Regions from separate parts of the Homo sapiens genome. Here region 1 is linked to region 2. Evidence: fine-mapped expression QTL. A gene starts in region 2. The other region holds a variant in brackets. All regions are shown on one strand. Distances are between the middles of the regions.

Evidence for each region. PIP is the estimated chance that this variant, and not a neighbour inherited with it, causes the effect.
Region 1: its variant is fine-mapped to the expression of GORASP2 in whole blood (INTERVAL, PIP 0.96).

The regions. Positions count from the first base shown.
Region 1 is chr2:171,124,419-171,129,803 of GRCh38, forward strand. All of the region lies in intron 1 of TLK1 (tousled like kinase 1), which reads right to left. LOC124906092 reads right to left here. Exons shown (of 1, transcript XM_047446755.1): 1 at 1-5,385. Among named protein-coding and RNA genes, the nearest start is that of TLK1, 34 kb to the right of the region's middle. The variant AAAAAG/A (reference allele first, on the strand shown) is at 2,871.
Region 2 is chr2:170,926,314-170,931,674 of GRCh38, forward strand. GORASP2 (golgi reassembly stacking protein 2) reads left to right here and starts at 2,940. Exons shown (of 10, transcript NM_015530.5): 1 at 2,940-3,090. The coding sequence starts at 3,028. RefSeq lists a silencer at 2,719-3,418.

The DNA.
Region 1 (5,385 bases), 200 kb after region 2:
TAAAAAAATTTCAATCTCAGCCTTTAGCTCAAACAATTGTGAAAATATACTTTACCACTTCTAAGCCAGTCAGGATATTTGTCCTGTTTCTAACAAAAATTAATGCAGCTGATGCTAGTTAAGTCCAAAAGAGCAAACTGACTTCACAGTTGACAGTACTGATTCAGTAACACACATGGATAGATGGAAATATTTTCTGCAAAGTATCTGCCAATGAATAACAATGAATAACCATAAACTATGAACTCCTCAGTTTTACAAGCTTTGTAAATTACTCCAACTAAGCCTTTTGCTGCTCCGTATGTATTCTATCACCACCGCTTGCAGCACATCCTTACAGATTCCACTTCAGATTGTACTTAGTGTTTTCTCAGCTTTGAAAATATTCTTGCCTGTAGTTGTTCTGCACAGGCTATTCAGAGGCCAACTTTTCTGCCACTTCAAACTTGGAATTGACTCCTTGAATAAAGAACAACTGAATTGTATCAATAACATCTGCCGGCTCATCAAGAGCCGAGAAAAACCACTCCAAATCATTTGCCTTGTTTTTTAATTGACTAGTGATGTTGCTTCAAATGTCCTCAACTCTTAAATCAACTGTGCTTGCCAAAAAGCTAATAGCCTAAAACAAGTTTATTTTCTCTGGACATAATTTTTTTGACTGCTTCAATAAAATACAATTTAATTAACTCAACATCAGTAAATGGCTTTCCTTGCTTGGCAAACAAATAAGCCACTTGGAAACTTATTTTGGTGGCAGCCTCATTTTCATTTTTATGAAGAAATTATGCTGTGATGAGATATTCCATTTTTAAGTTTTGTAATTTTTCTATTGCTTTCCTCAGAGTTGGACATAGTGTAGTATATGATTAGTCTAGTTACTTTCATGTATACTGTATTCCTCTATTGCAGCTCTAGTGTCACTTCATAATAAGAGCAATGTTTTGCTATTAAATTCAATAACAAAATAACCCACACTCCAATGTGCCTTAAAAGCACGTCTATATTTTTCTCTTCTTTCCTTTTTTTGACATGATGGATACACAGTGGTAATAAATAAACAAATAAAATAAAAAATTGCAATCTGGTCACAGATGTGGCACTCAAAACACCGTCAAGCAATAATGGCAGCACTGAAATTTGTGGTACACCAAACAGTAGCTTGAAGTAATGAGAATGCCATATACAGTTTCTGTCAAAACTCCTCAGCTCTGCCATTATAAAGCAAAAGCAGCTGTGTTCCAATAAGACTTTATTTATAAATAGAAAATGAAATTCAAATTTCACATGTCACAAAGAATTATTTATTTTTTATTTCAACAGGTTTTGGGGGAACAGGTAGTGATTGGTTACATGAATAAGTTCTTTAGCGGTGATTTCTGAGATTTTGGTGCACCCATCACCTGAAAGAATTATTCTTTTTTGATGTTTTTAGCCATGTAAAAATAGGTAAGTTTGCTTACTCCTGTTCTAGAAAACACACTTCAAAGATTTCAATCTTTTATGGACTCAAACTGTCATTTTTGACCCTTAACAAAAAATTCTGTCCTCAAGAGGGAAATTTTCTGGAAAAAAAGTAAATTCACTATAATCCATCAAATTCTTTATTACAATAAATGTTTATAATTTTGAAAAGGAAGAAATTACAAAAGCCACTATAAAGATCATACCATTCTTAAAGAATAGCCCATTTCAAAGCACAACCACCTGTCTTTTAATTATGCTACTCTTCTTACTATCCTGTTTCCCAAAATTTACAAATGTAAATCCAAAACATCACATAAAACATATAACAAGGAATGTCACTACCCAAATTAGAGATCAATCACATTCAATATGATGAAGAAAAATTTTAGGGAACATAAAGAACACAATCCGACCCATTAGTTTGTCATGTTTCATTTTAATAAACATGTTTTCTCTCTCTCCCTGTCTTTAAACACACACTCTCATAAACTCAATAAATGTTGATTACTGTAGAAGTATGGGCTCCCAAGGATCCAAGGATGATATATTAGAACATATTACTAGTTCTGGTTAGTCAACATCACTTTATATGATAGTTATATCACCTGTATTTATGACAAGGAATCATTTTTTCATTATATAATTTTTTAGTTGCCTTAAGTCTTAATCTTCCTTGACGACAGTCATAATAAAATCAAATGCCTAGAATGCAGGTTTTTAAAAGGTTAATACCAGTTACCAAAAAGGTGAAAAAGAGTTTTTTCACTAAGAGCTTTCTAATAGTAGATTCAATTGCTGCTGAGCCATGACCTTAGTTTTAAATTTAAAACTTCCTGAAGTCTAAAAATATTTTAATTCACTCGAGATTTTAACTGCTACTTTTCATATTACACTTGATAAGCTGATTTATAGAGAACAGTTAAAGCTTTTCTTCTATTAATACTTTACATATTATACTAGATAAGGCAGAGGTTCCTTTTATTAAAAATAAACACTATGACAACGAAATTATTTCTCCAAGATAAAATATTCCACTTAAATAATTCCTTTTCATTAGTTTTTTTTAATGCACTCAAAAGTATCGAAAGCAAAAGAATTCAAAAGTCTGGGCTGGGCACGGTGGCTCACGCCTGTAATCCCAGCACTTTGGGAGGCTGAGGTGAGTGGATCACCTGAGGTCAGGAGATCAAGACCAGCCTGGTAAACATGGTGAAACCCCAATTCTACTAAAAAATACAAAAATTAGCCAGGCGTGGTGGTGCACACCTGTGATCCCAGCGACTCAGGAGGCTGAGGCACGAGAATCACTTGAACCCGGGAGGCGGAGGTTGCAGTGAGCTGAGATCATGTCACTGCACTCCAGCCTGGCCAACAGAGTGAGACTCCCGTCTCAAAAAAAAAAA[AAAAAG/A]AAAGAAAAAATTCAAGAAGTCTATATTGTATAACACTGGAATTACTTCTGAATCTTGTCTTGAAACATCCATTTTAACATGGTTAATAAATAGAACATACCTATTTTCATTGACAATATTTTGTACCATATTTAGCTATAACTTTTGTTGGCTATACTATGTTGCATTATTTATTCCACAGTTTGATTCCCTACTTTAAAACCAAATATTCTAATTTTTTGGCAGTTAAATGAACATGTTAGTTAAATGAGCTATCACAAAACCAGCCCAATTTCTTTTTCTAACCCTTCCCTCACATGAATTCAATAAACCCATTTCCTACATTTTTTTCTAATGATTTCAAATATTAACATTTAGAACATTAATCCATTTAGAATTATATATAGATATATATCTAATTTTTTTCCAAAGGAAAATGTCCCAATTTCTCACCAATTCAAACTTTTCCCACTAATTTAAAATACCTCTCTGGTTATCACATTCCATAAACATCGGTCTGTTTTGTACTTTATTCACTAAATAGTTTCACTAAACTATTTATCTGTTTCTGAGTCATATTATCTATCCATCTATCTACATATATAGATATATATGTACTGCACATACACACATAAACACAGACACACACTTTCCGAAGATTTCACCCAAATGTCTGACAACAGTAAGTATAGAAAGTCAGGTCCCTGAATCTAGGTATACATGTTCAATTATATAACCCTGTGGTAGAGAAGACAGGTCTAATCTAGAATCATTCCAAGTCAGAGTAATGCTTCACCTAATCTTTTTAATATAATTGGTCTTTTTAAACACTTTTGTTGCAACCCTTACAGCAAAGAATTCAAATACTCTGAGACCAAATAATTCATATAAGGAGATATGGCTTGCATCAGAGTTACTAAAGCATAGGGTTTCTGCTTCTCTCTACTGCCATGACCTTAAAAAATGAAAATAATTTAAATTTCAATTTTATTCTTACTAATAAAAAAATCTGACAACTAATTTTTCTTTCATCAAAAACATACGTAGGTCGATAAGTTGTGTAAAGTTTGGTCAAGTTCTTTAATCTCTCTCTATTTTAGCTTCCTTATATAGAAAATGGAGATAATAAAAGTACATACCTTATAGAGTTGTTAAAGTAAAATAAGTTTCTATGAATAGTTTTGAACTAAATCTGTCACTTAGAAAGCATTCAATAAATGTGAACATATATGTATGCTAAAATATAAGTGCTCAATAAATATTAGCATATATAATGTAATAAGCCCCCTTCTAGCTTTCTTCCTGGGGTTAGAAGTTCCTGCTAAGTATAATAGGATTACATATACTTCCGTGCCTAATTTCTTTATGCTAATATAGTAGTAACACAACTAACCAAGTTCCTCTTCCTCTAGCCTCAAACTTGTGACAATCTGCTATTTTTAAAATCAATCTCTCACATTGTGTATATACATGTACATGTATATATATATACACATACATACAAATGTATATACACATACTCACATATAGATGTATTTTATACTAGACTGCATTTCTGTATTAACATATAGTCCTGATTTTAAAAATAAAGAAATTGAGACACTGAAAGGTTAAGTTATACTGCCTTTTGTTATAGTTTATATCCACTCAACTAAGCATCTCTGTCCCAAAAGAAGGGTCCAGAGGAAGAGTATGTGTGTGTGTGTGTGTATGTGTGTGTGCACGTGTCCGTGTCAGAGACACAGAGAAAAACAGAGCATGTACTTGATCCTGCAGTAAGAAGGAATGTTCTCTAAGAAAACTCCAAAACAGGAATCTGGTAAAACTTGAGCTGGTAATTACCCTCTCCTCACTACCAGAAAGTAGACTGGTATCTTGTCTCTAACCTAAGTACTCAAGACTCTTTTTTGGTTTCATCCCTTTCCCTCATTACTAAGTAATAGGTGCTTCTTGAAATAAATACAAAAATATAAAAGTAAAAAGTCCCAATACCTCCTTGTCTCCAAATCCCACTCCTGAGAGGTAACCAATTGTTATGAACCTTAAAAAGGACAGTGATGATTTACTGCTCCACAGTACTCCTTCTTGGCCTATTCTTCTATCCCAATAATACAGGGTGAAAGAAGGGCCACAGAACAGTTTTTCTTTCTTAAAGTCCCTTTACAGCAGGTAAGTAGATCCCTGACCAAAAAGGAGGCTGCAAGTACTTTTTGTAAGAAGTCCAAGTTGAATACGATCTACCTATTAAAGCACAACTGAAAACAATGAATGAAAATCAACAAGGGGCCAGGAGTGGTGTCTCACATCTGTAATCCCAGCACTTTGAAGGCCAAGGCAGGCAGGTCCTTTGTGCCCAGGAGTTCGAGACCAGCCTGGGCAACCTGAAGAGACCCCATCTCTACAAAAAAATTTAAAAAATTATCCAGGCATGGTAGTCCGCACCTATAGTCCCAGGCTGAGGTGGGAAGATCACTTGAGCCCAGGAAGTAGAGGCTGTGGTAGTAAGCTGTGAAATGCTGCCACCGCACTC
Region 2 (5,361 bases):
CTCACCCTCACACCCTCCACCAACTGCTGCTAAAGAAATAACATGGGTTTTTACCATCACCCTGGGAATTAGGAAAAAAAAGAAAAAAAACCCACAGATTTTGATGAGACACAAATAGTAGCCACAGAGGTCACTTACTAACTGATTCTGAAAAAAAGGCTTTGAAGCTATTCATTACACACATTCAATTCAAATCAATAAACACTACTACCATGTTCCCAATACTCAACCAGGAACTGGGGATCTCAAGATGAAAAAACATGATCGGCTGGGTGTGGTGGCTCACACCTATAATCCCAGCACTTTGGGAGACTGAGGTGGGAGAATCATGTGAGCCCAGGAGTTCGAAACAAGCCTGGCAGCATAATGAGACGTCGTCTCTGCAAAAAATCAAAAAAATTAGCTGGGTGTGGTAGTGCGTGCCTGTAGTCTTAGCTACTCGGGAGGCTGAGGTAGGGATGATTTTGAGCCCAGGAGGTGGAGGCTGCAGTGAGCTGTGATCACACCCCTGCACTGCAGCCTGGGAGACAGAGTGAGACCCATTTCACAAGAAAGAAAGGAAAAAAAAGAAGGAAGGAAGGGAGGGAGCGAGGGAATGAGGGAAAGAGAAAGAGAGAAAGAAAAGAAAGAAAGAAAGAAAGAAAGAGAGAGAGAGAGAGAGAAAGAAAGAGAGAAAGAAAGAAAGAAGAAAAGAGAGAGAAAGGAAGGAAGGAAGGAAGGAAGGAAAAAAAAAATATGATCCTTGCTCTGAATGAATGGACCACGAATGGTGGAAGACAGGCCTGTGATGATGACGATGATGTCATAGAAATGAAGGAACTGTTTCATGGCAAGGAGAGAGTCACACTGACCTTAAGGATAAATAAGTAACATTTGAGATGGGACTTAAAGGATTAGGATTTTTTCAAAGTTAGGATTTTTTAAGTGGAAAATGTAAGGAAGGGCATTCCAGAAGTAGAGAATAGCATGAATAAAATCAAGAAGGTAAGAAAGTAAATGGCTTGTGTGGAGAATAACAAGCAGCCACTCATGAGGCTGAAACATACACTACAGCTCTAAGGAAGGGCTGGACTTGCCCATGGACCACCAACGATCCACAGCCTGGGTTCTATAGGCCGCGGCTGCCATCAGACATATGGGAGACAACTGGTCCAAAAATTTTGACCACTGAACATGGCAGCAGCTTCCATCATAAAGAGGGTTATAATTGCCAAGCAGAATGAGAACATTATAATTAGATCTAGTTCTTCCATTTATTCTCTTGCATTAAATGTATTAATTTGTTGAATTAGCTGCTAGGCATTCTGGTAAATATCAAGAACATAGAGCCAACTCCACTGCAGACCCTGTCCTTGAGGAGCCTAATAACTGGAGATTTCATTTATGGATTTATGGATTTATTAGGCCTCCTAAAAATCTGCTATTCACTTACCGATAGCAAAGAAAATTATTTTTAAATTTTAAATAATATTTTCTTATTACAAAAGCACTTCATGAGCATCATAGAATATGGAACCAGCCAAAACAAAAAATAAAATATCTCTGTCACCACCCAGAGATCACCACTGTAACCCTTGGTTCATATTCTCCTCCCACATCTTCATATGCATACATACATATTAATCTGTATTTTGAGGACATGTTTTTCATTTTGTCTACAGACACATCCCGTCTTGTAACCAGCTTTTAAAAAAGACAATAATTTCCACGTTTCCATGTGAATAACTACTCTTCTAATACTCAGTACATATTCAAATTTCTCCAAATGAACCAAAAATGTCCTTTACGCTTATTTCTCCAAGTTGGCCCCCAACTCAAGCCCTTGCAATGTGTCTCTTGGTTATATTCTTCGGGTTCCTTTTAATCTGGCATAGGCCCTTTCATAGGACTCTGACTCGACAAAGAGAACTGGCCAGCTGTCCTGAAGGAAGGCCCACTTCCTGTATTTGCCTGGTTCCCTGTGGTGTCATTTTACTTGCTCCTCAATTCCCCTTACTTCCTGTAAACATCAAACTCAAGATGCCATAGAGGCAAGTTAACCACCTTGGGCTAGAATACTTCATGGGCGATAGCACGTACTTTACATTGCATCACATAGGAATCCACATAATACCTGGTTGACGCAACATCAGTCCAACTGACCACAAAGCAACTAGGGGTTTCAGAGGGAGTACACGTAAGGGGCAAAAGCAGCAACGGAATACGACAACGGAATAAGCATGAATACGACCTGGCTACCTGAAGGAGGTAGGACGGGGAACCGAGCAGCAGCAGGTGGTGGAATGCCAGGGAAATCCAACCGTGCTTCCCACGCTGGCATCGCTCTGATTATGACCAATCCTCTAATCTTATTCTCACAATTAGGGAGGAAGAAAAAAAAACAAACCCAAACCAAAAAAGAAGTTGGTAGGTGACTCTGTGAGACTACTGTTTTATAAAGGGAGCGTTTCCTTTTATAAAATTTAGCTGAGCAGATGCTAGGCAGCCCACAGGAGGCCACTATTCCCCTCAGCTGTACAGTTTGGGAAAATACCTACACACCCGGAGAACAGAGAGCTTGGTGTGTGTTGAGTTCGCTCCTGTTCATCAGCAGCCCTTTCCCCGCCTCTGGCCACCAGGGGGACCTGCAACCAAGTATGTGTTCTTTCAGGCGAGCGGGAACGCGTCTGCATAAATCTAGTCCAATCCAGGGCCCCGTAGCAAGGCGCCAAAGCTGGGGGAAGCGCATTTCTGTTCTCTCGCGAGCACGACGCGGTGCCTCCCAGTCCTCCTCCGGCCCTCCCTCTCCGCCCTCCCGGCCCGCGAGCGCTCGGGCCCCTTCCAGTGGCTCGCGGCAGGTGGCGCTGTCTGCGGCGTCGCAGCGGCCCGGGCTGCAGCAGAGACGATCTCCCGGCGGGCTGTGCGGCCCGGCTCTCCGGCGGCAGCGAGTGCCACGTCCCAAGTGCTACGCGGAGGATTAGAGCAGGCGGTGCGCTGGGGGCGGGAGCAGCGCGGAGCCCGGCTCGGCCACACCGATCGCCCGCCGCCATGGGCTCCTCGCAAAGCGTCGAGATCCCGGGCGGGGGCACCGAGGGCTACCACGTTCTGCGGGTAAGGGCTCCGACGGCGGCCGGGGAGCTGCGGGCTGGAGGCGGGGCCGGCCGCGGGGAGGCGGAGGCCCCCATGGGCTCCTTCACGGGGCAGCCAGGCCCGATCCCGCGAAGGAGCGGCGGTCGCGGGCGCTGCCTTGGTCGAGGCTGGTTCCGGAGGCCGCTCGCATCCCACCTCCGCGGAGCGCCCTGGGCACGGGGTCCGCGGCTGTAGGAGGACGGGCTGGAGCTGGAGGCGGCTGCCGGCGACTCGGCCAGGGGGCGGCCCTGGGAAGGGGGGACAACCTTGCTCTTTTTCCGCACGGCCTTCTCTCTCCTCCACCCCCCCTCATTTTTAGCTTCCAAAGTTAGGAAGGGCGCGGAGGCAACGTCTCCAAAGTGGTGACTGTGAAGGCAGCCTTTGCGCTTTCCTAGGAGAGGGATCCGGACCCGCAGTCCGGAGGCGGGGCCTGCGGCGGCAGGTGTTAAATCACCTCGGCGCCGGCCGAGTGGCCTGAAAGACCAGCAGGGCAGGAGACGGAAAACCAAATGGCCTGGAAGTAGGTTCGACGGACTTAAACAGACTTGATTTTGACCAGACTTTTCCTTTCCCGTGCCACTCCTGACCCTCCCAAACCTTCTCAAGATTTCCTGGAGTGGGAACTTCCGTTCTGTTCCGATTGCTGAGGGTGTGGTTTAGATTATAAGGTTTAGATCCACAGTGGTAAAGAGGTAGTGCAGAGAAATTTTTTTTAAAAATCGGAGTATATAAAGGAAAACAACCCTAGCTTAACTTCCAGGACGCAGAGAAACATAGTATCTCAAAAGGCGTCAGCTAAGCCCCTACCTATGAACGGCCTGGGCCTGGGTGGTACAAAGCATGTGGTCTTTTCCTCATGGAACCGGGCGACTTTAGAAGTAGCATTGATGGTTGTTTGCTGTGACACCTGTGTGAGTGTTAACATGAACAGTCAACAGAGTGGCCGCAGCGTGTAGCGCCATTTAGGGGTGTAATAGAGTGTCACTCAATATTAGCTCCTCACAGGCAAGAACGTTTTCACTGAAAGTAAGAGAGTGCACTTCCTGGTGCTACCTTCATTTCCTGCCCTGGGTCCCATGTTTTAGGTGAGACACATTCTTAAATTGCCCAGCTGTCTATGTGATAGGGCTGAGACAGATCATCTTTCTGATCTTCCGGATTATCGTGTCTATTGCCTTTCCATTACACTAAAAATCCCTCCTCTGCCATACTCTTAGTAGGAAAGGGTGATTTTTTTTTTCCCCGAAAGGAAAAGGGAGCCTATAAATAAACCGTATTATCTTCCTATCCCCTTCTGCTAACCAAACACCCAAGAGCCACACTGAGAGAGGAAATGGAAGGAGAATTGTCAGTTCCCAAATGTGAGGTGAAAGCTGTGCTTTTCTTTCTATTATCTGGTCTGATTTTGAGTTCTCTACCCTGGGATGTTACCCAGTATTACCAGCTGTTTCTCACAGTGACCGATTGTGGTCATGAATCCTTGGGGATTCATGATATTTTTATAATACATGCACTCAGGGAAACTCAGTAAAACACATTAGTGTTAATAAGCAAAAAAAAAAAAAAAAAGTCGCGTGTTTGAAAGAAAGCCATACACATCAAAAGGATTCCAACTTAGTGACTGCATTCCGACATAAAATGAGTTTGTATTTTCTTTATGTAAGTGCAGTCAAGTGAAACAGCATTCATACATATTCAGTAGTGCAGATGTGTTATTAATCTATACATCTGATTTTTAGAAAAACTAGGGACAACCTTAGTTACCAATCTGCATCTGGAGCATTAATGTTGCACACGATGAAATAATTCTTATTTAGTTAGACTTTTACTAAAGAGAGCTTTAAAATAGTAATGATCTAGTTTAGGAGAATTTTGTGTCTGCCTTCCTAAGACCCTCTGCCCCTGATTCTGTAATTGGTTTTCTTATCTTTGTTTTTAGAGGGAAAAGTGCTGTGTTAAATCTTAACATGTAAAAATGTCTTCCTTTCATTTGTTATTGCCTAAATGGACAGCGATATATTTCATTGTTAGATTACCAAGCTTGTAAACTGGAGTAACTGTGGCAGGAAAATTTTGAATAAAATCACCCATATTCAACAAGTTCTAGAACGATTTAATTAGAAGTTAGTTTTCTTGAATAACCAATTCCCTGGCCAATCTTGTTGTAGTAAAAACTTAATATGATTGACTGGGTTTTGAAATACCAATTATAATAACATTTATATCCACTGCTGTCTTTTGATTTCATGAGTC